4 linked regions of the Homo sapiens genome follow. The protein of the gene in region 3 interacts with the protein of the main gene of each other region in a biochemical or structural test. Each region holds a gene or a part of one and is shown on either strand. Other genes may lie near its edges. The genes, in order: STRN4, SLMAP, MAP4K4 and LATS1.

Region 1 (7,040 bases), on a different chromosome or scaffold from region 3:
AGGTCAGAGGCTGGCCCCTCACTGGTGCCCGAGAGGTGTCGCCAAACTCAGCCTGGGGGGCTGACATGTGGAAGGGGTCAGCCACGCCCTGGAGGAGTTCACAGTGGGCAGAGCTTGGCCTTGGTGACCTAGGGCAAGTGGGTTCCTGCTGCTCAGCCTGTCTCCTGGCCTGTAATGTGGGAATGATAATGACAGTGTTCACGGTAGCTGTTCGCAGGGTTGGGGGTTAAGTGAAGTCGTGTCTGCGAGGGGTAGTCAGTGGTCATTCAGTGAGTGGAATTTGCTCTTGTGCCAGCACGGCTGCTGGTGCTGTGTTTATCGCTGCAATGCTGTGGTCCATTCATCCTCACTTGTTTGCACCTCCGTATATTCACACACGGACACCAGTGCATATCTGCCCTCCCTGCAGGCAGATTGTTGCATTATCTGACTTTTCTTCATCCGAGGCACCTTGCTGGGGGACTGGAGCAGGCTGAGCCCTGGCTAGGGGAAGGACTGCGTGAGGGTGGGGTCAGGCCGACCGGCCCTAGTGGTAGCAGCTGTCCAAGGCCCAGCAGGGGGCGCTCCAGGGCAGCTGGCTGGCGGCTGAGGCAGCCCCATGAACAGAAACGGGCCCAGAGCCCCGGCTTACCTGTTCCTAGGCACGGAGGTGGCTTAGTCTCTGGACAAGAGGCCCCCTGACTTGTCTGGCTTTCTCCATGTGCCAGCTCCCATCCAAGGCTCTGGTGCCCGAAATGGAAGACGAGGATGAGGAAGACGACTCTGAGGATGCTATCAATGAGTTTGATTTCCTGGGCTCAGGAGAGGATGGGGAAGGGGCTCCAGACCCTCGGCGGTGCACTGTGGATGGGAGCCCCCATGAGCTGGGTGAGCTGACGTTTTCTGGCCAGCCCCCGCTTGCCTTCCCCACCGAGGGGGTGGGAGCAGGCTCAGCTGCCCGCAGCTGCTTCCTGTACAGGGTCTCTCTACCGGACGGATATGTTTCCTGAGAGGAGGGTAGCCAAGGAGAGCAGGAGGCCCAGGTCATGGCCGCCGGCCCCTCACCCCTTCCCTGGAAAATCCCCATGGAGACGCAGGCAGTCCTGGCTCTTCCTGAAGTGGGGCCGCCAGCCCTCCAGGGCGGGCGTCCAGCTCTGGCTGGCCTCAAGGAGGGAACAGGATGAGGACCCAGTCGGGGAGAGGCAGGTGGGAGGGCCGCATCTTCCTCCCTGTCCTGTGACTCCTAGCTAGGAGGGCTCTCAGGATACGTGGGATGGGTGGCTGGGGCCTGAGGCCTAGGCAAGGCAGTGACCTGCCCACTGCCCCACGGAGGGGCCCAATCAACCTCCTCTCCTCTGCCCATTCCCCCCCTCCCCCAGGGCCAGAGCTTCACAGCCCCACAGAGTGGCAGGGGGCCCTCAGTGTGGGGAAGGCGTCACCTATGCCAGACTGGGTTGGAACTGCTGGGTGACTCCGGCCCTATGCCTCGACCCTGCAGAAAGCCGTCGGGTCAAACTCCAAGGCATTCTGGCTGACCTGCGGGATGTGGATGGGCTGCCCCCAAAAGTGACTGGCCCGCCTCCTGGCACACCCCAGCCCCGGCCACATGAAGGTAAGAGGCACCCCCCACCTGGTCCCAGTCCTGCGGGCCCATGGCAGAGGGAGGCTGCAGAGCTGAGCCCAGGGCTTCTGTGTCTTCAGGGTCGAGGCCCAGCCTCCAGTCTGCAGCCTCCCTGCCCCAAAAGTTCGTCTGTCTGTCTGTCTCCCTCTCTTTTTGTCTGTCCTGCCCTGTCTGTCTCTCTGTCTCTTTCCAGCTGTGATTCTTCATCTTGTCCTCTCCCCGTCTCTCTCTCTTGCTCTTTATCTCTTTCTCTGCCTCTCTCTGTCATTCTCTCTCTCCCTGGCCCTCTCTGCCCCTCCCTCCCCTCCCCCTACCAGGTTCCTTTGGCTTCTCCTCAGACGTCTTCATCATGGACACTATCGGGGGCGGGGAGGTGAGCCTGGGGGACTTGGCAGATCTCACCGTCACCAACGACAACGACCTCAGCTGCGATGTAAGTTCTCCGGGTGCCCCCCACACTGTCCCCATTGGCATTGCGCCCAGGGCCAGCCCCTGCAAGCTCTGACTGGGTGCCGCCCGTGCCCTGCTCATCCTGTTTCACAGAGGGGTGCAGATGTAGACAGTGGAGGGACTTGACTGCGGTCGCCAAGGCGCAGGGCCTGGAAGACTCTGGAGCCTGTGTTTTAATCACAGTTCCACGGCTCCTCCACTCTGCCCCTCCCACCCTGGTGATTTGGAATGCAGGAAGATGACCTGTAGCCACCCCCTGCTCTGCCAAGTCAGGCCAATCTAGTGTGAATGGGCAGCTGGGCTGAAATGAAATGTTCCGGGCCTCAGTGGACGGGCCTCTGGCCATCTGGGAGCCTTTGGCCAGCTGGGAGCCTTTGGCCAGCTGGGAGCTTTTGGTGTGGGTGTATGTGCACATTTTACTGTGACAGAATGGGATTTCCAGTGTTGGTGACCCTAGTAAGGCTGGGTGGGGACTGCTGTGAGATTCAGGAAGGGGGGTCAGAGCAGAGGCCTGAGAAGTGGAGTGTGCCATGGGGTCCCTCTGCACGCCCCAAGATGTCATTTCATCTTGGGGAAGTGCAGTGTTCTGAGCCCCGCTAGGGGAGGGGGTGAGTGAACCACACAGTAGCAGATCCTCTGACCCTAAAGAACTGTGGCAGAAGGGACAGCTAAGGCAGGGACGTCAGCTGGGAGCCCATCTTGGGGCATGGTGCTGAGGCTTGCCTGGTACTCTGCTCGTCATCTCTCCGGAACCTGGCCCTCTCCGGGTCCCCTGCTGGGTGAGCGGCACCAGGGCGCATGCAGCGTGGTGGACAGAGGCCCCCACAGCTCTCCCACTTGTGCACTGCCTCCCCTTCATGGTCACGTGTCTGGTCTCCATGCCCTCATCTCCCCTGGGACTTCCTGGCCTCTCAACCTCTTTCTCTGAGGCTACCTTTTTTTTTTTTTTTTGCTCCTTGAGGGGATCTCCCTATGTTACCCAGGCTGGTCTCGAACTCCTGGGGTCAAATGATCGTTCTGCCTTGGCCTCCCAAAGTTCTGGGATTACAGGCGTGAGCCACTGTGCCCCGTCTGTGGCTACTTTTACCTGCCCCTAATCTGAGCCTCTCAGGGGTGGCAGGAACAAGCCATGTCGTTCCCCTGCTCTAAACACTTCCCCGGCTCCTTGTTTCTCTGAGGCTTTTTCTTAGGATGAAATGCGCATTCCTCCGGGGCTCACCACCCAGCACCTGTCTCATCCCCTGCCACTCTCCTTGCCTCCTGCAGCCTGTACCACTGACCTCTCAGGCCTGGGCTCGCCCTTGCTGCCTCAGGGCCTCTGCACGGGCCCTTTCCCTCTCCAGGGCCCTCTCCTTATCTTGTGAAGTCCTGCTGGCTCGTGCTTCCTCAGGAAAGCCTCAGTGGCCCCCAGGGAGGAGGGCAGGCTGCCTGATGTCTCTCTGTGCATCTTTAATTCATTGCCCTGCTCATGGCTGATGATCCTGCACACTTGTGGGATGGTCCAGTTGTGTCCCCCATTCCCCTTCCTCTCAACTGCAAGACCCCAAGGGGTCAGGCTCACCTTTGTCTCTCCAGAACCCAGCGCAGTGTGGGGACTTGTTGGGCGAGCATGGAGACTCTGCCCAGCAGAGGAAGGGGAGAGTTCCCGGCTGGAGCCCAGGCTCTGAGGGCATTCCTGCCAGGGTCATGTGGGTGGAAGACAGGGGCCCTCAAGCCCTGGGTGTCGGTGTCTGCATGACTGCTGGGATGGATGCGAAGACACTGAGGCAGCTCCCCCCAACCCCAGCTGTCTGACAGCAAAGATGCTTTTAAGAAGACGTGGAACCCCAAGTTCACCCTGCGCTCGCACTACGACGGCATTCGTTCCCTGGCCTTCCACCACAGCCAGTCGGCTCTGCTCACCGCCTCCGAGGACGGCACGCTCAAGCTCTGGAACCTGCAGAAGGCGGTCACGGCCAAGAAGTGAGGGCAGCAAGCTCAGAGCCGGGGGCAGGGGCATCTGGGGACGGGGGTGACAGGGTCTCAGTGACATCAGGCTCCTCTGTCATCCCACAGGAATGCGGCGCTAGATGTGGAACCTATACATGCTTTCCGGGCTCACAGGTAGGGAGGTGCCCCTGAGCCTGCTAGAAACTCGTCCTAAATGCAGCCTGACTCCTGACCTGCTCACTGCCATCGCGGGAGGCCCACGGCAGGAGGCAGGACAGCAGGGGGCTCTGAGTCCCCGCCCCCTTCATGATATACACAGCCCTGGTTCTTGGGGCTCCATGCTGACTTTCACATGCCCTGGCAGCTGGTACTCAGCACAGCCCTTCAGGGGAGGAGATGGAGGTGGGGTGGGGGAGGGCAGGGGACAGGCAGCTTGTCCAGGTAGCATGGCCAGAGCCCCAGTCACTGAATTCCTTTTGGCCATCCTTGAAGAATGCTAGTAGGGAACTTAGGTCCTGTGGCCAGGGGAGGCCCTGAGCTTGTCTCATCCCCCTTTCCACATATTTGTCCCTTCCAGGGGCCCAGTGTTGGCTGTGGCTATGGGCAGCAACAGTGAATACTGCTACAGTGGCGGGGCAGATGCCTGCATCCATAGTTGGAAGATTCCAGACCTCAGCATGGATCCCTATGATGGCTACGGTGAGGACAACGCCTCCCGCCTTCCCCTCACATCCACTGGGGCCTGGCCGTCCCCTCCACGCACACACACGTCGCGTCCACCTCTTGCCAACACTGCAGGCCTCAGGAGTGCGTGTGACGGCTCCCCTGTCTGCTCTGTTGTGAGCAGCGCGATGCAGCGCGTGGCCAAGGGACGAGCCAGCCGGGATGGGAATGATGGCTGTGGGAGGAGGTGGTGAAGCTGCCTGAGAATCTCTGTGAGCCGGCGTCCAGAAGGCAGTGCTGAGGCAGCCCAGGCTGGGAGCAGCCCATGCACAGGCGTGGCTGGCCCTGGCAGCCTCTGCTCTGCCATGCCGTGTACTCTGTGTGTGGGGATCCGCCAGGGTCTCTGCGTGGTTGAGGGGAGGGCATGTCCAGAGAAAGCAGAGAAGGTGGAGTTAGCTGGGCCAGGCTGGAGCGCGTTGGGGCTTTCTCTTTGGAGCATCTAAGACCTAAGTAGGGAAGTGACCAGACTGTCACTTCTGTTCAACATCTGTCCCCCTGTTCTCTGCCTTTTTTTTTTTTTTTTTTTTTTTTTTGAGACAAAGAGTCTCACTCTGTCACCCAGGCTGGAATGCAGTGGCGTGATCTTGGCTTACTGCAACCTCTACCTCCTGGGTTCAAGTGATTCTCGTGCCTCAGCCTCCCGAGTAGCTGGGATTACAGGCACGCACCACCATATCCAGCTATTTTTTGTATTTTTGGTAGAGACAGGGTTGCACCACGTTGACCAGGCTGGTCTTGAACTCCGGACCTCAGGTGATCCACCCACCTTGGCCTCCCAAAGTGCTGGGATTGCAGGCATGAGCCACTGCGCCCGGCTCTGCCTCCTTGATCATGCACCTGGCCCTGTGCTCCACCTTGTCTGGGCAGAGTTCAGAGGTCTTTGTCTCCTCTCAAGGGGAGGACAGACTTTAGAGAACAGGCTCACCTGCACAAGGTCAGGATCGGTCCCAGCTACATTAGCCACCACACTTTCGGTGTCAGCAGGCCAGAGCTGCTGGTGTGGACTCCAGCAACCAGGGAAGCAGTGATTGGACCTCTGAATGACCAGGGGGCTTTGGAGAGACCAGGCAAAGCCCATGCACTTGGCCATGGGCTGAAAAGACTGCTCGGGCCAGGGTTGGGACCAACCCTTGTCCAGCACAGGCTGCGTGCCGCTCCTGGGGCCACAGAACCATGCTGTTCCTTCTTCCTTAATGGAGCCCGAAAAATTCTGTATTGAGCTCCCAGTTTCTGGGCCCTGCTTGGGGAGACAGCTGTGAATAGAGGGAAATCCCTGCCTTCTGGAGCCCTAGAACCTTCCTTGGAGAGCTAGTGGGCAGTGTGAGCAGCTGCCGGGCTGTCCTGGCAGTGGACAGTTCCGAGGGGCACCAGGTGTGAAGTGGGTGCGTGGGTGATTGGAGCCCAGCTGCCTGGGGCTTGGCAGAGCTGGGGCTCTGGGCTGTCCAGGGAGGAGCTGGCAGCCCTGACACAGCCCATTTCCTCCCTGCGGTGGGTGCAGACCCAAGCGTGCTGAGCCACGTCCTGGAGGGCCACGGGGACGCCGTGTGGGGCCTGGCCTTCAGTCCCACCTCCCAGCGCCTGGCCTCCTGTTCTGCTGATGGCACCGTCCGCATCTGGGACCCCAGCAGCAGCAGCCCGGCCTGCCTCTGCACCTTCCCCACAGCCAGCGGTGAGTGGGGGCCCCGGTGCCTCACCCTGGAGCTGTGCGGGATCTGGAGGCTATCAGAGTGGTTCCTGCTGAGGCCCCAGGCCTCCCACCCACTGTCCCCCACCCTGGGGCAGGGCTGGGTCTGAGGGTCCATTCAGCAGCCTTCTCTTCCCTGTGCCCTCAGAGCACGGGGTCCCCACCTCAGTGGCCTTCACCAGCACCGAGCCTGCCCACATCGTGGCCTCCTTCCGCTCTGGCGACACCGTCTTGTATGACATGGAGGTTGGCAGTGCCCTCCTCACGCTGGAGTCCCGGGGCAGCAGCGGTAAGGGGGCTGACATCAGCTCATGGAATTGGTCTCAGTGTCTTCTGGGCCCCACTTCCTCCTGGGGCTTTGGCGACCCCTTGTCAGTCAGCTCAGATGACTCCCCTGCACCCTCAGGCCCTGAGCAGGAAGGAAGTTGGGTCCCAGTGGAGGGCCCCCGGCCCTCACAGCCAGGGCACTGGCGGGGCTGAGTGGGGAGAGCGCGTCAGGGCCGCCCCGTCGGGCCCTCTTGGTAGAGTGGCGGAATGTGTTCATGTTTGTTATTCCTCTTCCCCCGCCCCAAAACAGGGCCCAGGGGCTGCTTGTGCAGAACCAGCGCTGCGGTCGGGGACCGGAGTGCCCTCGCCCAGCCCCCCTCGACATCC
Region 2 (7,040 bases), on a different chromosome or scaffold from region 3:
GATTTTTGCTCCTGTCACCCAGGCTGGAGTGCAGTGGCGCTATCTCAGATCACTGCAACCTCTGCCTCCCGGGTTCAAGTGATTCTCCTGCCTCAGCCTCCAAAGTAGCTGGTATTACAGGCACACGCCACCATGCCTGGTTAATTTTGTATTTTTAGTAGAGACAGGGTTTCACCATGTTGGCCAGGCGGTCTTGAACTCCTGACCTCAGTTGATCCACCTGCCTCAACCTCCCAAAGTGCTGGGATTACAGGCGTGAGCCACTGCACCTGGCCCTCATAATTCTTTAAAATGAATATTCATAGAACTCATTTTTCCAGCAGTTGAATTCAAACATCAGTTTACTACTAAGTAGTGCCTTAACTCAACCAGCTTTTACATTTTCACCATTTTATGTTCTTGGGCAACAGGTCTAAACTAATCAGACAACAGGTTGGCTCACAGTACATACTCTGCGAATGCACTTTCTTTGATGAAACACTCGAAGGGGACTCCCATTTTTTGTTTTACTTATTTGAAAAATACTGATTTCATGCCCAGTGCTTTCCATGGCTGTACTAAAACTCTCACAATAGGTTATTTTGAGATAACTAAGAATAGGTCAGTAGTGACTGTTTCATGAATTGAGATGACATGTTAATATTTGTTTTTTTTCTTTGAGATGGAGTCTCGCTCTGTGGCCAGGCTAGAGTGCAGTGGCGCAACCTCAGCTCACTGCAACGTCTGCCTCCTGGGTTCAAGCGATTCTTGTGTCTTAGCCTCCTGAGTAGCTGGGATCACAGGCGCATGCCACCATGCCCAGCTAATTTTTATATTCTTCGTAGATACTGGGTTTCACCATGTTGGCCAGGGTGGTCTTGAACGCCTGACCTCAAGTGATCCACCCTCCTCGGCCTCCCAAAGTGCTGGAATTACAGGCATAAGCCACCACACCCGGCCATGAAATTAGTTCTTCAGAAAAACTTATCTTTGAATGGTAGATATGGCTTATTTCTACCATTTTCACTTTTTTCCTCCTGCTTTATTAGCTAAAATAACACGCAGGCTATGAGACCACTACTTTAGATATAGATGTAATTATTGATTATTATACCACTTAATCTAGTTATAGCGGATGCTCTGTCAGATCTTACCATGTCATTGAATTGTTTTAGGAATTAACTATTTAAAGTTTTGGTTTGGACAGATAGTAGGTTTTAATTGAGCATCTATTATGTGCCAGACACTGTGAGGGATACAGTTCCAAAGAAAACCCACAGTGCGACCAAATAGTTCTCGTATGAAATTTGCAGTGTCTGTAGTCCCACCTACTCGGGATGCTGAGGCACGAGGGTTGCTTGAGCCCAGGAGTTTGAGGTTGCAGTGCTGTGATTATGCCACTGCACTCCAGCCTGGGTATCAAAGCAAGACCCTGTCTCTTAAAAAAAAAAAAAGAATCCCTTCAGAGAAGGAGTTTCGTTCTTGTTGCCCAGGCTGGAGTGCAATGGCGCGATCTTGGCTCACCACATCCTCTCCCTCCTGGGTTCAAGTGATTCTCCTGCCTCAGCTTCCCGAGTAGCTGGGACTACAGGCATGCGCCACCACGCGTGGCTAATTTTGAGTTTTTAGTAGAGACAGGGTTTCTCCATGTTGGTCAGGCTGGTCTTGAACTCCCAACCTCAGGTGATCCACCCACCTCAGCCTCCCAAAGTGCTGGGATTACAGGCATGAGCCACCGCGCCCGGCCAGGTTTTTTTTTTTTTTTAAACATCTGGGGATGATAATGGTACCTATTATTGTTTTGAGAATTGAGGTAATTATATAAATCACTTAGCACCCTGTCCCTGGCTCTTACTAAGCACCCAATACTCAGCAGAGAGGGTGTTTAGTGGGGAAGAGGGAACTATTTAGACAACACTGTGCAATTTGCTATAGTGCTATGGAGTCTTAGGAAGGTGATGAGAAATTATTTTCTTTAATGTGATGGCATATATAGAATAAATTTTGTTTTTGTTTTTGTTTTTTGTTTTTTTGAGACGGAGTCTGGCTCTGTCACCCAGGCTGGAGTGCAGTGGTGCGATCTCAGCTCACTGCAACCTATACCTTCTGGATTCAAGAGATTCTCCTACCTCAGCTTCTCAAGTAGCTGAGATTACAGGCATTCATCACCATGCCTGGCTAATTTTTGTATTTTTAGTGGAGACAGGGTTTCACCATGTTGGCCAGGCTGGTCTCAAACTCCTGACCTCAGGTGATCCACTTGCCTCGGCCTCCCAAAGTGCTAGGATTACAGGCATGAGCCACTGTGCTTGGCCAGAAGAAATTTTTAAAATTGAAACTGATGTAGTTGATAACTTTGTCTAAATTGGCAGTTTACCTGGGCGGTCGACAATTGGGGTAATATGTGCTTTGGGTGACTTTCACTTTGTGGTGACTGTTGCATTCTGCATTGTCCATTATGGGAGGCTCATTAAAAGTTGGAAGAAGGCCGGGCGCGGTGGCTCACGCCTGTAATCCCAGCACTTTGGGAGGCCGAGGCGGGTGGATCATGAGGTCAGGAGATCGAGACCATCCTGGCTAACAAGGTGAAACCCCGTCTCTACTAAAAATACAAAAAATTAGCCGGGCGCGGTGGCGGGCGCCTGTAGTCCCAGCTACTCGGGAGGCTGAGGCAGGAGAATGGCGTGAACCCGGGAAGCGGAGCTTGCAGTGAGCCGAGATTGCGCCACTGCAGTCCGCAGTCCGGCCTGGGCGACAGAGCGAGACTCCGTCTCAAAAAAAAAAAAAAAAAAAAAGTTGGAAGAAATAGGCCAGGCTTGGTGGCTCATGCCTGTAATCCAGCACTTGGGGAGGCTGAGGCAGACGGATCACGAGGTTAGGAGATCGAGATCATCCTGGCTAACACGGTGAAACCCTGTCTCTACGAAAAATACAAAAAATTAGCTGGGCATGGTGGCATGTGCCTGCAATCCCAGCTACTCGGGAAGGCTGAGGCAGGAGAATTGCTTGAACCCGGGAGGCGGAGGTTGCAGTGAGCTGAGATCGCGCCACTGCACTCCAGCCTGGGTGACAATGTGAGACTCTGTCTCAAAAAAAAAAAAAAAGTTGGAAGAAATAATAAACACTTGAAACTTTATGATTATTCAAATGATACATGTTCATTTTAGAATATCTGCAAAATGTAGGCAGGTGGAAATCTAAGTGACACTTTTTAATGCTAAGCTCATGGAATATCTTATTGTATAATACTTAAATCTGCATGTTGAAGGGTGACAGGTTTGGCACAAAGCAGAGTTTCATAATCTTTACCAAATCATCTTCTCAGTAATGTAGCAGTTGGATATTGCCTTGTTGGATGCTGGCCCTGTGTATTATCCTTCATCCTTTTCGGAAGTCAAGCTCTTCAAATTAGATGGCAGATAGTAGAATGGTTTTTTTTTTTTTTTTTTTTTTTGAGCCGGAGTCTTGCCCTGTCTCCCAGGCTGGAGTGCAGTGGCGCAATCTCGGCTCACTGCAACCTCTCCCTCCTGGGTTCAAGTGATTCTTCTGCCTCAGCTTCCCAAGTAGCTGGGATTACAGGCATGAGCCACCATGCCCAGATGCCTGGCTAATTTTTTGTATTTTTAGTAGAGACAGGGTTTCACCATTTGGCCACGCTGGTCATGAACTCCTGACCTCAGGTGATCTGCCTGCCTCGGCCTCCCAAAGTGCTAGGATTACAAGTGTGAGCCACGGTGCCCAGCCTAGAATGGTTATTAATTCCTCTGTTGATTCAAGGCACCACTGAGCAAGCAGATCTACCCATATAGTGGTTACATAGAAAGGATAGTGAGTGAACTCTTGTGATTTGGATGGCCCTATTTGATTTGAGGCTTTGGGGTACCGGTGACATGCTAGTGGTTGACATAGTAGTCTATTTCCAGTTTCACTGAAGTTTACTTACTAGTGGTAGTAGTTGTCTACTTCTAGTCTCACGTTTAATTTAAACTTAGTGCATCTTTTTTTTTTTTTTTGAGATGGAGTCTCGCTCTGTCACTCAGGCTGGAGTGCAATGGTGTGATCTCGGCTCACTGCAACCTCTGCCTCCTGGGTTCAAGCAATTCTCTTGTCTCAGCTTCCTGAGTAGCTGGGATTATAGGCACACACTACCACGCCCAGCTACTGTTTTTTATTTTAGTAGAAACGGGGTTTCACCATGTTGCACAAGCTGGTCTCGAACTCCTGAGCTTAGGCAATCCACCCGCCCCGGCCTCCTAAAGAGTTAGGATTACAGGTGTGAGCCACCGCGCCCGGCCTAGTGCATCTTTTTGAGCACCTGTTCTATCATGATTTGTTTTAGTGAAGGGCATAGTGGTAAAGGGGGAGAAAATGACAAACTGATGAGGATTTGTTATTTCTTCTTTCTAGGAACTTTTACATTGGATAGAGAGGGTGACAGTGCACTTTGAAAATAGTTGAGATAGGTGATATTATGTAAGTTTCAATGGCAAAAGAATAATGACATTTGACTTTAAAATTAGGGGTGGATAGATAAGAAAAGGTGTTTTTTTGGTTATTTTTATTTTTTTTGTGGGGATGAGGATGGAATAAAAAGCAGATAATTTTGAATGAGCTTTGCATTTTCCAAATGCTGAGGAAACTGACTTTGTTGGATTAGAGAGTTCTTTGAAGAGTAGCCAAGGGTGCACATCTATTCTGTGTGATGTTCTTGTTTGTGCCTTGTCTTTGTAATTAATTTTCACACTCTGGAAGACAGGAACGTTTTCCTACTATCTTGTATAAAGTAGTTGTTGAATAAATGAAGCTGACTAGATAGTGTGGTGCCAGGTTGTGAAGTGCCTTGCTTACCAAGCTTAGGATGTGGACCCTTGGGTTATGGAAGGCCTACGAGAGTTCTGAGCAGAGCACTGACATACCAAACCCCTGTTTAAGAAAGAGTGGGCCGGGTGCGGTGGCTCACACCTGTAATCCCAGCACTTTGGGAGGCCGAGATGGGTGGATCACCTGAGGTCAGGAGTTTGAGACCAGCCTGGCCAACATGGTGAAACCCCACCTCTACGAAAAATACAAAAATTAACCAAGTGTGGTGGCATGAACCTGAAATCCCAGCTACTTGTGAGGCTGAGGCAGGATAATCACTTGAACCCAGGAAGCGGAGGTTGCAGTGAGCAGAGATCCCATCTTTGCACTCCAACATGGGCAACAGAGGGAGACTGCATCTCAAAAAAAAAAAGAAAAGAAAAGAAAGAAAGAGTGATACAATAGTGATACAATAGCAGTATGTAGAGTTGCCTGGAGCAAGGAAAAATGGGTAACAGCTTAAATAACACTTTTGTACTAACTATATACTGGGCCCTATTCTAAATGCTTTACTTGTTAACTTATTTAATCTTCAAGTAACTCTTTGAGGTGCTTGTTTTTTCTGCATTGACCTGTGAGGAAATTGAGGCACAGAGAGATCTTGGTCAAGTTCACCTAGCTATTAAATGGTAGAATTGAGATTTAAACTCAAGCTCATAACCACTGTGCTATTCTAAAGGCTTTATAACACTTTAGATATGATGTGATTTTGTGAGGGCATAGACCAGGTTAACAGTAGGAATGAAAATGATTAAATGCCAGAAAATGAAAAAAGATAAGAGTATTAAATTAACTTGCACATTAGGACTTCGGCAAAGCGCAAGGTCCTGTGTGAACTGAAGACTTTAGGGAAAGTTTAATGGATGAAACAGTTTCATGGATGAAATCCAATTTAAACTAGACCTTAGGACTTTTAAAAAGAGGAAGAATGGCCAGGAACAGTGGCAAATGCCTGTAATATCAGCTACTTGGGAGGCTGAGTCTGGAAGATTGCTTGAGGCCAGGAGTTTGAGGCTGTAGTATGCCAAAATTGCACCTGTGAAAATCCACTGCACTGCAGCCTTTGCATCATAGCAATAATTTGTCTCTAAAAAACAAAAAGTTCAAAAACTTGTATTTGCCAGGGGTGCATCAGGTCTGTAGCCCCACCTATTTGGGAGGATGAAACAGGAGGATCACTTAGGCCAGGAGTTCAAGGCTATAGTGCACTATGATTGCTCTAGCCTGGGTGACATAGTGAGACCCATCTTAAAAAAAAATATGGGGTTAAGGGATAGATTGTAGTTAGGGTCAGTCAGGGAAAGGAGTTTTGGGTGGGAGGAAGAAGCAGGGATGATACGGCATGTTCCAAGGACATTGTAAGGAAGACATTGTGAAGAGCCTGCTGAATTTGACAACCAAGATTGTTTCTTCTTTTTTCCTCCACACATCTAAACATGACCACAAAGATCCTAGCCTCAGCTTTTGGGAGAATGGCAGGTCATACATTCTTTTACTTTTTATTTGTTTGTATGTTTGTTTTAACAGATACTTAAGTTTTTTGTTGACAGAAGTATAAAGATCATTAAGGGGTGCTGGTGTTTGTGAGAAAGTCTTTTACTTGACAAGTTGTATTTAAGACACATAATGTGAACATGTATAGGAAGCCAGATTATATCTTTAAAGCACATGTTCATTTCCCTCTATATTATTTTTCATAATAGTGGGAAATTGATAAAATATTTTATCTGTGATTTCAAATTGTTAAAAATATCGACAGTGTATATACTTAAAGCATTTTTTTTCCCACTTAGTTCTTTGACATTACTCCTTAGGTTAAATTCACTCTTTGCCCTTTTAGGCTTCTGTCTGATTTTCTTTCTTTTTTTTTTTTTTTTGAGACGGAGTCTTGCTCTGTTGCCCAGGCTGGAATACAGTGGCGCGATCTCGGCTCATTGTAAGCTCCGCCTCCCGGGTTCACGCCATTCTCCTGTCTCAGCCTCCTGAGTAGCTGGGACTACAGGCGCCTACCACCACACCCGGCTAATTTTTTTTTTTTTTTTTTTTTTTTGTATTTTTAGTAGAGACAGGGTTTCACCGTGTTAGCCAGGATGGTCTCGATTTCCTGACCTCGTGATCCGCCTGCCTCAGCCTCCCAAAGTGCTGGGATTACAGGCGTGAGCCACCACACCCAGTCTACCTGTCTGGTTTTCTTAAGTGAT
Region 3 (5,484 bases):
CTTTGAAACTTGGCCCTGAAGAACGTTTCCACCTTTTGCGTCACATTGACAGACTAGCAGTCAGCCCAGTTCTCAGATTTAAACATTTAGTCATTTAATGCAAGAAAGAAGAAGCTACACATATGTCCTTGGCAGCTGGTCCTGCTTGCCCGATACATCCCAAACACAAAGTCACTTCACCTCTACCCACTGTCTTCTGCAACCCTACAACTCAGTTTCAAGTGGAGTTTTGCCTACAGATTATCTCCCAAATCTGTGACCTTGAAAATCTCTACAGCTCAGACCTAATCCAGGATTTTGTCAGCTTGTTGGCTTATACTTTCCTAAGTATGTTTACCATAGCTGCAACTATAGCATTCTTTGAATTTCAGGCATTTAAATATTTTTATCATGCATGTCATGTCCTTTAAGATTTATTAATAAATGGCACAAAAATTCTATTTATGGGTTATATGAAGTAATTAATACATTTTTTGTTGATTTTTAAAAAGAAATTAGGTTGTTAAGGAGTCTTCCGTGATGCTCATTGTGTTTTTTAAAGACATTTATTTATTAGAAGGTGTTAACAGTAGAAGTGGAAAGAAATAACTTCAGAAACATCCATTTTTTTCCTTTGTTGTCTCACAATATGCCAACGTGTAAGGAGTTAGTAGTAACAAGCCTGAGTTGTAATAAAAATTGGCTGCAGATGGTCACTCCTTACAAATTATAAATTGATAATTGCCCCAGAGGTTTTTGTGGGTTGTTTTTGTTTGTTTGTTTGTTTTGGTGACGGAGTCTTGCTCTGTCGCCCAGGATGGAGTGCAGTGGCGTGATCTCGGCTCACTGCAACCTGAACCTCCTGGGTGCAAGCAATTCTCTTCCTCAGCCTCCTGAGTAGCTGGGATTACAGGAGCCCACCACCATGCCCAGCTAATTTTTTGTGTTTTTAGTAGAGATGCGGTTTCACTATCTTGGCCAGGCTGGTCTTGAACTCCTGACCTCATGGTCCGCCTACGTCGGCCTCCCAAAGTGCTGGGATTACAGGCATGAGCCACCATGCCCAGCCTTTTTATTTATTTATTTATTTTTTGAGACAGAGTCTTGCTCTGTTGCCCAGGCTGGAATGCAGTGGTGTGACCTTGGCTCACTGCAGCCTCCACCTCCCGGGTTCAAGTGATTCTCATGCCTCAGCCTCCTGAGTAGCTGGGATTACAGGTGTGTGCCACCACATGGTATTTTTAGTAGAGATGGGTTTTGTCATGTTGGCCAGACTGGTCTGGAACTCCTGGCCTCCCAAAGTGCTGGGATTACAGGTGTGAGCCACTGCACCTGGCCTCAGAGTTTCTTTTGAAAAGGCTCTTTGGGAGTCTAAGCTTCTCGTACTTGACAGTGTTGAGGATGATGGTGGCTTAGATTCCCTGGCTGGAAGTGCTTCATGACCATGGTAACCATTCCCTCTCTTTTCTTGCTTTTGCAGGTGTTCTTTGCCTCTGTTCGGTCTGGTGGCAGCAGTCAGGTTTATTTCATGACCTTAGGCAGGACTTCTCTTCTGAGCTGGTAGAAGCAGTGTGATCCAGGGATTACTGGCCTCCAGAGTCTTCAAGATCCTGAGAACTTGGAATTCCTTGTAACTGGAGCTCGGAGCTGCACCGAGGGCAACCAGGACAGCTGTGTGTGCAGACCTCATGTGTTGGGTTCTCTCCCCTCCTTCCTGTTCCTCTTATATACCAGTTTATCCCCATTCTTTTTTTTTTTCTTACTCCAAAATAAATCAAGGCTGCAATGCAGCTGGTGCTGTTCAGATTCTACCATCAGGTGCTATAAGTGTTTGGGATTGAGCATCATACTGGAAAGCAAACACCTTTCCTCCAGCTCCAGAATTCCTTGTCTCTGAATGACTCTGTCTTGTGGGTGTCTGACAGTGGCGACGATGAACATGCCGTTGGTTTTATTGGCAGTGGGCACAAGGAGGTGAGAAGTGGTGGTAAAAGGAGCGGAGTGCTGAAGCAGAGAGCAGATTTAATATAGTAACATTAACAGTGTATTTAATTGACATTTCTTTTTTGTAATGTGACGATATGTGGACAAAGAAGAAGATGCAGGTTTAAGAAGTTAATATTTATAAAATGTGAAAGACACAGTTACTAGGATAACTTTTTTGTGGGTGGGGCTTGGGAGATGGGGTGGGGTGGGTTAAGGGGTCCCATTTTGTTTCTTTGGATTTGGGGTGGGGGTCCTGGCCAAGAACTCAGTCATTTTTCTGTGTACCAGGTTGCCTAAATCATGTGCAGATGGTTCTAAAAAAAAAAAAAAAAAAAAAAAAAAAAGGAAAAAAAAAAAGAAAAAGAAAACGTGTGCATTTTGTATAATGGCCAGAACTTTGTCGTGTGACAGTATTAGCACTGCCTCAGTTAAAGGTTTAATTTTTGTTTAAACCTAGACGTGCAACAAAAGTTTTACCACAGTCTGCACTTGCAGAAGAAAGAAAAAAATTCAAACCACATGTTTATTTTTTTTTTGCCTACCTCATTGTTCTTAATGCATTGAGAGGTGATTTAGTTTATATGTTTTTGGAAGAAACCATTAATGTTTAATTTAATCTTAATACCAAAACGACCAGATTGAAGTTTGACTTTTATTGTCACAAATCAGCAGGCACAAGAACTGTCCATGAAGATGGGAAATAGCCTTAAGGCTGATGCAGTTTACTTACAAGTTTAGAAACCAGAATGCTTTGTTTTTACCAGATTCACCATTAGAGGTTGATGGGGCAACTGCAGCCCATGACACAAGATCTCATTGTTCTCGATGTAGAGGGGTTGGTAGCAGACAGGTGGTTACATTAGAATAGTCACACAAACTGTTCAGTGTTGCAGGAACCTTTTCTTGGGGGTGGGGGAGTTTCCCTTTTCTAAAAATGCAATGCACTAAAACTATTTTAAGAATGTAGTTAATTCTGCTTATTCATAAAGTGGGCATCTTCTGTGTTTTAGGTGTAATATCGAAGTCCTGGCTTTTCTCGTTTTCTCACTTGCTCTCTTGTTCTCTGTTTTTTTAAACCAATTTTACTTTATGAATATATTCATGACATTTGTAATAAATGTCTTGAGAAAGAATTTGTTTCATGGCTTCATGGTCATCACTCAAGCTCCCGTAAGGATATTACCGTCTCAGGAAAGGATCAGGACTCCATGTCACAGTCCTGCCATCTTACTTTCCTCTTGTCGAGTTCTGAGTGGAAATAACTGCATTATGGCTGCTTTAACCTCAGTCATCAAAAGAAACTTGCTGTTTTTTAGGCTTGATCTTTTTCCTTTGTGGTTAATTTTCCTGTATATTGTGAAAATGGGGGATTTTCCCTCTGCTCCCACCCACCTAAACACAGCAGCCATTTGTACCTGTTTGCTTCCCATCCCACTTGGCACCCACTCTGACCTCTTGTCAGTTTCCTGTTCCTGGTTCCATCTTTTTGAAAAAGGCCCTCCTTTGAGCTACAAACATCTGGTAAGACAAGTACATCCACTCATGAATGCAGACACAGCAGCTGGTGGTTTTGTGTATACCTGTAAAGACAAGCTGAGAAGCTTACTTTTTGGGGAAGTAAAAGAAGATGGAAATGGATGTTTCATTTGTATGAGTTTGGAGCAGTGCTGAAGGCCAAAGCCGCCTACTGGTTTGTAGTTAACCTAGAGAAGGTTGAAAAATTAATCCTACCTTTAAAGGGATTTGAGGTAGGCTGGATTCCATCGCCACAGGACTTTAGTTAGAATTAAATTCCTGCTTGTAATTTATATCCATGTTTAGGCTTTTCATAAGATGAAACATGCCACAGTGAACACACTCGTGTACATATCAAGAGAAGAAGGAAAGGCACAGGTGGAGAACAGTAAAAGGTGGGCAGATGTCTTTGAAGAAATGCTCAATGTCTGATGCTAAGTGGGAGAAGGCAGAGAACAAAGGATGTGGCATAATGGTCTTAACATTATCCAAAGACTTGAAGCTCCATGTCTGTAAGTCAAATGTTACACAAAAAAAAATGCAAATGGTGTTTCATTGGAATTACCAAGTGCTTAGAACTTGCTGGCTTTCCCATAGGTGGTAAAGGGGTCTGAGCTCACACCGAGTTGTGCTTGGCTTGCTTGTGCAGCTCCAGGCACCCGGTGGGCACTCTGGTGGTGTTTGTGGTGAACTGAATTGAATCCATTGTTGGGCTTAAGTTACTGAAATTGGAACACCCTTTGTCCTTCTCGGCGGGGGCTTCCTGGTCTGTGCTTTACTTGGCTTTTTTCCTTCCCGTCTTAGCCTCACCCCCTTGTCAACCAGATTGAGTTGCTATAGCTTGATGCAGGGACCCAGTGAAGTTTCTCCGTTAAAGATTGGGAGTCGTCGAAATGTTTAGATTCTTTTAGGAAAGGAATTATTTTCCCCCCTTTTACAGGGTAGTAACTTCTCCACAGAAGTGCCAATATGGCAAAATTACACAAGAAAACAGTATTGCAATGACACCATTACATAAGGAACATTGAACTGTTAGAGGAGTGCTCTTCCAAACAAAACAAAAATGTCTCTAGGTTTAGTCAGAGCTTTCACAAGTAATAACCTTTCTGTATTAAAATCAGAGTAACCCTTTCTGTATTGAGTGCAGTGTTTTTTACTCTTTTCTCATGCACATGTTACGTTGGAGAAAATGTTTACAAAAATGGTTTTGTTACACTAATGCGCACCACATATTTATGGTTTATTTTAAGTGACTTTTTATGGGTTATTTAGGTTTTCGTCTTAGTTGTAGCACACTTACCCTAATTTTGCCAATTATTAATTTGCTAAATAGTAATACAAATGACAAACTGCATTAAATTTACTAATTATAAAAGCTGCAAAGCAGACTGGTGGCAAGTACACAGCCCTTTTTTTTGCAGTGCTAACTTGTCTACTGTGTATTATGAAAATTACTGTTGTCCCCCCACCCTTTTTTCCTTAAATAAAGTAAAAATGACACCTATTTTATGTGGCATGAGTTTCGAATATGTTCTGACCCTTCAGAATGTTTCCTTCCTGTGAGGATCCATATTTTATGCATACCTGCCTACCCTGAGCTTCCCGTACCAGAGCAGGCTCCTGTATTTTGCTATTTCAGATGACAGGGGCTTGCCCAAGGCCAGGTATAGATTACAAAAGTAGCAAATGTTTGTCTAAAGACCTCAGAGATGAAGTGGGAGATGAACCTCCATCACCAGGTTCCTGAAGACAGTATGGAGTAAAGCTGGTCCTTAAAGAAATGTCACATTTTTGCAGTTTTGAATTTGGATCAAAAAATACAACAGCATGATGTCTGTAATAGGTCAATTAAAGTAGCTCTTTCTCAGTTTGGTGCATAAATACTAACTTGGGTTTAATAATTGGAGCCCCTTCAATGTAAGGTCATTGTGTCTTCAGCGCTGGGGTTCCCCATCAACCCCCCCATAGGCCTGGTAGGCATGATCGCCGTCGGGCAAATCTGGG
Region 4 (7,040 bases), on a different chromosome or scaffold from region 3:
AAACTGTTAAAATTGCTGATACCAAAGGCATGTATACTGCTTCAGATAAATGCAAAAAGCTTATAGTATCAGAGGAAATTTTAAAAGAATACATATTTGCGCCAGGCGCGGTGGGTCACGTCTGTAATCCCAGCACTTTGGGAGGCTGAGGTGGGCATATAACTGGAGCCCAGGAATTCCACACCAACCTGGGCAACATGGCGAAACCCCATCTCTACTAAAGATACAAAAATTAGCTGGGCTTGGTGGCGCATGCCCAGCTACTTGGGAGGCTGAGGCGGGAGGACTGCGTGAGCCCCCAAGGTTGAGGATGCAGTGAGCTGTGAAGCGCCACTGCCCTCCAGCCTGGGTGACAGAGTGAGACCCTGTCTCAAAACAAAAAACAAAAAAAGAATACAAAATTTGTAGTGTCTGTTACATTTCAGCAATAGGGGGAATACAGATTTTGTGGGAAGGGAAGGGGGAGGAGACAGCACCTTAGTTTTCCTACAACATAAATGTAACAAAGTTATCTTCTACTGTATTGCACCTTAGTCCAAAAGTAAAACAACTAAATGAAAATTTAAATAAATCAGACTGAAAAAGCCCAAAGAGTAAGAGGAATACCTTATAAATGTGACTACCCACCTAAAAATTCTTGAACTACTTTGTTTTGCATAGGATTTTATGGGACTAACCAAATGTTCCATGAACCATGAGGTGAAGACTGCGATTTCATGATAGCACATTGTTTTACAATTCTGATTAGAAATCCTTCAGAAATATTTCTGTATCAAGCTTGTAATGAGCCTAACATTTCAGTCCCCTCCAAATGATATATTAAAACAACTTAATGTACCAGCAAGAGAGGCATTCATAAGGTCACCTTATATCACATGCTACAGACCTTTTCCATCACAAATTATCAGCTTATATAAGATGTGCTGAGTAGTGATTGGTAAGTTAAAAACAAAGTTCTTAGTTTAATGTATCAATTTTCTCATGGCACAGAGGTCCATAACCTACAGCCTGTGATAGGTTTCAATATGTCCAAAATCCCTTGAAACTGCATGCAACATTGTATGTGTATGTGTGGTTTTTTTTTCTAGGAAGAGTCCACAGCTTCCTTCAGATTCTCAAAAGAACCACTAACCCCAAAAGACGCACGATAACACAGTAGTGGGTTTTCAGGCTGAGCTCTGAAAGGACCACCTGTAGAAAGGTGGGAAGTGTGGGCTAATAAGTGTTCTTTGCCCTAACTCTCCAATTCAACTGCAACAGCTCTGCCTTTAATTTTACTACATATACGGTTTCAATTAGCTTTTATGCGAAGAAAGCTAAAAGTATGAAAATCACTAAAATTATGCCTCCAATCTACAAATAGTAACTTTTGATAAAAACAATCCCTTATCAGTGGAGCTTAAGAAAAGGAAATAAAACACAACACAAATTTTACTATGGTCAAAATGGAGCCTTTTTCCCCTTCCTAAAAGATAAGCTACATGTATTTTGGTATGAAACCTTAATCTTCCTTAGAACCTAAGCGTTATACATAACAGGCATGTTGAACGCATTATTGAACCTTAAATAAATTAGGAGGACTTGAATTTTCTACTAAGACCACTCTGTAAACTTTCCTAATTATTAATGGCCATCTTAAGAGTTAATTTTTTCACCAATTAATCTGCGCTTAGGTAAAATATTGCCAGATAGCCAGATTTTCCTTTGCCAATAACAATCTGTATATGCAGCACTGTTCTGAAAGAGGAAACAGGTAACATTGATGATATAATCAAAATAGTTACTATACAGGAAAAGTATATGAAAATTAAAATAATTATCTGCTTAGGATGGTGAGAAATATTTTAGCTTTTAGTATTGAACATTTCGATTTATGGCAGCTTTGTTCCCTTTTAAAATTGGAAGCAGCATCAAAAATACCAATATGGAAAAAAAGCTAGTAGTGCTTTGGCTTCTTTTAAAGCCAGTAATTCTTGAGAAATAAATGCAAGAAGATTAAATAGATTAAATATTCCATGGGGCGGGGGGTGGGGGGGAAGATAAATGCATTATTTTTCCTTCTGACAAACATATTAATATTTTTTCAACCCTGTATTCCTTAGTTTCAGGATGTGAATTATACAGATTATCATTAGCCTAGGAACACTCACCAACACGATGGCTTAATTTCTCTAGCTTATTTTCTACCAAAAACAAGGTTATGAGGGGAAAAAAGAGCTCTGTAAAATAGGGGGTATGTTTCATATTTGGTTAAAGCAAGATAAAACTAAAACTGTCTTTCAAAAAAATTTCAAAAACTCTTGTATTTTAAAATTATTTAGCATATATACAAATAGATACCAGGTTTCTCCTTTTAAACAAAGCACTACTTATTTTAAGTACTTTAAGTACCAAGAACTGACTATAATATTCAGTTCATAATTTACTTTCCTTATAACAATTTTTTTCTAAATACTGATTTAAACGGCTGGAATAAATTAACATTTTAAAAGGATTTCCCATAATTTAGGAAAATAAAATATTGTACACAGAGCACACATATATAGCTCTGTCATATTTGCATAATTTTACTCTCAGAACCTCAAAACACCTCGCATTTCAGGCCCTTTTACAAATCCTCATTACATTTATTTACTAGTGTGTTAAACATATACTAGATCGCGATTTTTAATCTCTGAGCCTGTGTTTTGATCATCTTCATCCGACTGCTGCTCTGAGCCTTGTGAATTAATGTATTCATATTCAATAGGCTTCGGATAATTATATGGGTAGCCATTGTCATCAAAAAACCTTCGGAAGGTAAATTCATAGAATGCATGTTCAGGATGCTTTCCATTTTTATACCATCCATTGAGAGTGTCATTTACATTTTCTTCCTCGTTATCATCACTCCATAATTTATCAGGATCAACAGGATCAAAATTTGATGTATCTGTTGGGTGTGTGATTTTAGGAATGTATGAAGCAGACTGCTGTCTCAGGTCACTGGAGAAGTCAATTGTTTTAAAAAATGGATGAGCTTTTATTTCATCAGCACCATTCTTGCCTAAGCGATCTTCGGGTCCTCGGCAAAGTTTAATAATAAGATCAGAAGCTTCAGGACTGAGTTTAGCTTGTGGTGGAATGTGAAGAGATGTTTGCCAGTTGATAACCTTTAAAGATTTTTTAAAATTAGGGGGAAGAGATAAATTAGAAAAATAAAGATTTCCTTCAAGTTTTATACCAAAAGTCTCACTGGGCTATTTTTGTATTTTAAATAAATTACATGATATTTTGCTGGAAAATAATTTTTTCTCCTATCCCATCCTCTCCAAGCAACTTCTACTCACATTATAAGACTCACTGTCAGTTTTAATCTCCCCTAGTAAACCTTTTGGCCTATGGTAGAAGTGACTACTTCTACTCTGCCTCCCCTGTACCATATATTTATTTCTATCATATTTCTAATAGCTTGTGGTACCTATTTATGTTTATGTCCTACTGAAATATATCCATTAAGGCTAGGGATTATGTTTTAGTGGTCTTTGTATCTCCTAGTGCTCAGTAAATTGCCTGGCACATACTTAATACATGTTTGATAAAACTTTTTCTGGTGCCAAGCGTGGTGGCTTTTGCCTGTAATCCCAGCACCCTGGGAGGCGGAGGTGGGAGGACTGCTTGAAGCCGGGAAGGTTCAAGACAAACCTGGGCAACAAAGCGAGACCCCCTCTCTACAAAAAAACTTTAAAAATTAGCCAGGTATGGTGGCATGCATCTGTAGTCCTAGCTACTCAGGAGGTTGAAGCAGAAGGATTCCTGGAGCCCAGGAGTTTGAGGCTGCAGTGAGCCATGACTGCACCACTGCACTCCAGCCTGTGTGACAGAGCGAGACACTGTCTCCAAAAAAAAAAAAAAAAAAAAAGAAAAATCTCTGGTTATGAATAAAATGAAATGATGAAGAAAGGAATGCCAAGTGAAGCCAGACTACCTAAGACTACCTAGTCTCTCCCGCTGAACTCTTGGAGGCAGGGGAATTGGTATACAACTCCAAGTACGATATTAAATGGATTTGGGGCAAACTCTGTTAAGTGGTAGAATGCATTGTCATTTAACCAAGTTTAGATACCTTTAACTTGGGCAGGCACTGTGGCTCACACCTGTAATCCTAGCACTTTGGGAGGCCGAGGTAGATGAATTGCTTGAGCCCAGAAGTTCAAGACCAGCCTGGGCAACATGGTGAAACCCCATATCTACAAAAAATACAAAAGTTAGCCAGGTTGGTGGTGTACACCTGTGGTCCCAGCTACTTGAGGTGGGAGGATGACCTGAGCCCAGGGAGGTCGAGGCTAGAGTGAGCCGTGATTGTGCCACTGCACTCCAGCCTGGGCGACAGAGCAAGACCCTGTCTCAAAAGAGGGAAAAAAAATCTTCAACTTGTTGCATGGTAGGCAGTCAATAAATATTTTTTAAAAAGCTGAATAAATGAACAGTATAATCTTCCTTATTTGTAGAGGAGCTAGTCAGCTACTATAGAGGGAAGAAAAATATACTCCCTCGTCTATTATTTGTTCCTTTTAAAGTCTTATCCCAGATTAGAAAATGGAGAGGCTTCAACTAATAATAGAATATTTTAAAAACCCTTTTTGGAAAAAAAAAATGATACAGTTAATAATAGTTATTTATGCTTCCAGTTTCATCACTTATTTCAAACAGGAGAAATAAAAAATATACACAATGAGATGAACAATTTTTTTTTTTTTTTGAAACAGTCTTGCTCTGTCGCCCAGGATGGAGTGCAGTGGCGTGATCTCGGCTCATTGCAACCTCTGCCTCCTGGTTTCAAGCGATTCTCCTGCCTCAGCCTCCTGAGTAGCTGGGATTACAGGTGCCCGCCACCTCGCACAGCTAATTTTTTTGTATTTTTAGTAGAGACGGGGTTTCACCATGTTGGCCTGGCTGGTTTCAAACTCCTGACCTCAAGTGATCTGTCCACCTTGGCCTCCTAAAGTGCTATAATTACAGGCGTGAGTCACTGTGCCTGGCCAAGTTTAATATTTTTTATTTTAAGGTATATTTAGGATTTTTCAGTTTAAGGCAAAAAAAAAAAAAAGAGCACAGCAAAAGATTCAGATAATTCAAAGATGGATGAATAAAATTATATAAACTGAAGCACAGAGAGAAAACATGTAGAATAAAAGAAAGAATAAAGCATAAGAGAAATGGAGGACAGTATCAAAGGAATAGCACATGTATAATCATTAGAGTCTCAAAAGGTAAGAAAGCAAAATAAATCTTTGAAGGGATAATGACAGAGAATTTCCCCAAATCGATGAAAGTCATTAATGTACATTTCAAGAAACTGAGTGAATCTCAACCAAGAAAAATACAAAGAAAACTACACATAGGCACACCATGGTCAAACTGAAGAAAACCAAAGTTAAAGAGAAGAAAACCCTAAAAGCAACCAGAGAGGTCCCAGTTTTGAGGAAGATGTACTACATATACTCTCCTGTCTCCCTCCCACAGAAGGCAGCTATAAAACCTGGTCAGGATGCAGGAAGCAGCTACTTCAAGATCCTGAAAAGTAAATAATAACAGGTAGATTAGGGGAGAAGATGTAAATTTGAAGTACCATTAAACCTGGTGACCATTTAAAAAAAATTATTTTTTTAAAAAATTAATTCTCACTATGTTGTCCACGCTGGTCTTGAACTCCTAGCCTCAAGCAATCCTCCCACCTCAGCCTCCCGAGTAACTGGGACTACAGGCCTCTGCCAGCACACCCAGCTCCATTTTTTTGTCTCTAGTAGTCTGCAGGCTGGACTCAAGGTAGCCCAAAACTTGGAAGAAGCTGAGCACAGAGAGCTCTAGGAGAATTCCCTCTAGTTCAGGCTCAGGGAGTAGAAAAGGAGTTTCCTGGTAGCAACGGAGGTGGCAATAAGAGCCAGTATGCACCTAAAACTGACAGCCAAACCTTCCTCTCCAATTGTAAATAAAATAACAAAGCATGGGGCTGGGTGCAGTGGCTCATCACGCCTGTAATCCCAGCACTTTGGGAGGCCGAGGCGGGTGGATCACTTGAGGTCAGGAGTTCGAGACCAGCTTGGCCAAAATGGTGAAGCCCCGTCTCTATTAAAATACAAAAATTAGTGGGGTGTGGTGGTGCATACCTGTAATCCCAGCTACTCCGGGAGGCTGAGGCAGGAGAATCACTTGAACCCAGGTGGCAGAGGTTGCAGTGAGCCAAGATTGTGCCACTGCACTCCAGCCTGGGTGACAGAGTGAGACAATATCTCATAAATATATAAATTAATAAAGCATGGGGTCCCAAGAAGATGGGTTGAATCTCTGTTGCTCGTTTTCTCTCTGTGTCCTTTTGCCACCTTGTCCTGGATTCAGATGCAGTTATGAGATATTGGCAGAGTTGGATAAGTAAAGCCTCACTTTCTGGTCAGAGAACTAAATAGGGAGCCCCAGGGAACAGGAAAGTACTGGGGACATCACAGAGAGGGAGGAGATTGGGCAAGTGACCCCATTAAGTTGCTTATGAACTGCTGGGCTCCCCCTCCAAACTGTAACTATGTGGATCTAATCCTAAGGAGCATACCAAAGACTTTGAGAACTGAACTAAGGAAAAGACCACAGCCTACAAAGAGATCTATCTGCCTAGAAAGGAAAAGCCTTTGAAACTGACATTGAAATCAAAAAAGACTGGTTGGAACTTGTGGCCTGAACCCAACCGGGTTTAATGCTTGTCAAAACAAGGTCAAAATTCTCCATAAGATCCAGAATCTTGGCTGGGCACGGTGGCTCACGCTGTAATCCCAGCACTTTGGGAGGCCAAGGTAGGCAGATCACCTGAGGTCAGGAGTTTGAGACCAGCCTGGCCAACATAGTGAAACCCCGTCTCTACTAAAAATACAAAAATTAGCTGGGCATGGTAGCACACGCCTGTAGTCCTAGCTACCTGGGAGGCTGAGGCAGGACAGTCGCTTGAACCTGGGTGGTGTAGTGAGCCGAGATCGCACCACTGCACTCACTCCAGCCTGGGTGACAGAGAG

The links.
Region 1: the proteins of MAP4K4 (region 3) and STRN4 form a complex in vitro, tested with the Homo sapiens proteins (one study listed by BioGRID).
Region 2: the proteins of MAP4K4 (region 3) and SLMAP form a complex in vitro, tested with the Homo sapiens proteins (one study listed by BioGRID).
Region 4: of the proteins of MAP4K4 (region 3) and LATS1, one has a biochemical effect on the other in vitro, tested with the Homo sapiens proteins (one study listed by BioGRID).

What each region holds. Positions count from the first base shown.
Region 1 is NC_000019.10:46,722,445-46,729,484, reverse strand, and holds part of STRN4 (striatin-4), read left to right. Parts: intron 1-707; coding exon 708-867; intron 868-1,477; coding exon 1,478-1,591; intron 1,592-1,793; coding exon of another isoform or gene 1,794-1,938; coding exon 1,939-2,033; intron 2,034-3,836; coding exon 3,837-4,012; intron 4,013-4,105; coding exon 4,106-4,153; intron 4,154-4,556; coding exon 4,557-4,678; intron 4,679-6,200; coding exon 6,201-6,371; intron 6,372-6,534; coding exon 6,535-6,675; intron 6,676-7,040. UniProt on the Homo sapiens protein: Calmodulin-binding scaffolding protein which is the center of the striatin-interacting phosphatase and kinase (STRIPAK) complexes.
Region 2 is NC_000003.12:57,759,301-57,766,340, forward strand, and holds part of SLMAP (sarcolemmal membrane-associated protein), read left to right. Parts: intron 1-7,040. UniProt on the Homo sapiens protein: Associates with the striatin-interacting phosphatase and kinase (STRIPAK) core complex, forming the extended (SIKE1:SLMAP)STRIPAK complex.
Region 3 is NC_000002.12:101,889,707-101,895,190, forward strand, and holds the end of MAP4K4 (mitogen-activated protein kinase kinase kinase kinase 4), read left to right. Parts: intron 1-1,459; coding exon 1,460-1,543; 3' UTR 1,544-4,984; downstream 4,985-5,484.
Region 4 is NC_000006.12:149,659,087-149,666,126, forward strand, and holds part of LATS1 (serine/threonine-protein kinase LATS1), read right to left. Parts: intron 5,557-7,040; coding exon of another isoform or gene 5,434-5,556; exon of another isoform or gene 4,230-5,433; coding exon of another isoform or gene 4,131-4,229; exon of another isoform or gene 4,106-4,130; intron 3,153-4,105; coding exon 2,643-3,152; 3' UTR 1-2,642. UniProt on the Homo sapiens protein: Negative regulator of YAP1 in the Hippo signaling pathway that plays a pivotal role in organ size control and tumor suppression by restricting proliferation and promoting apoptosis.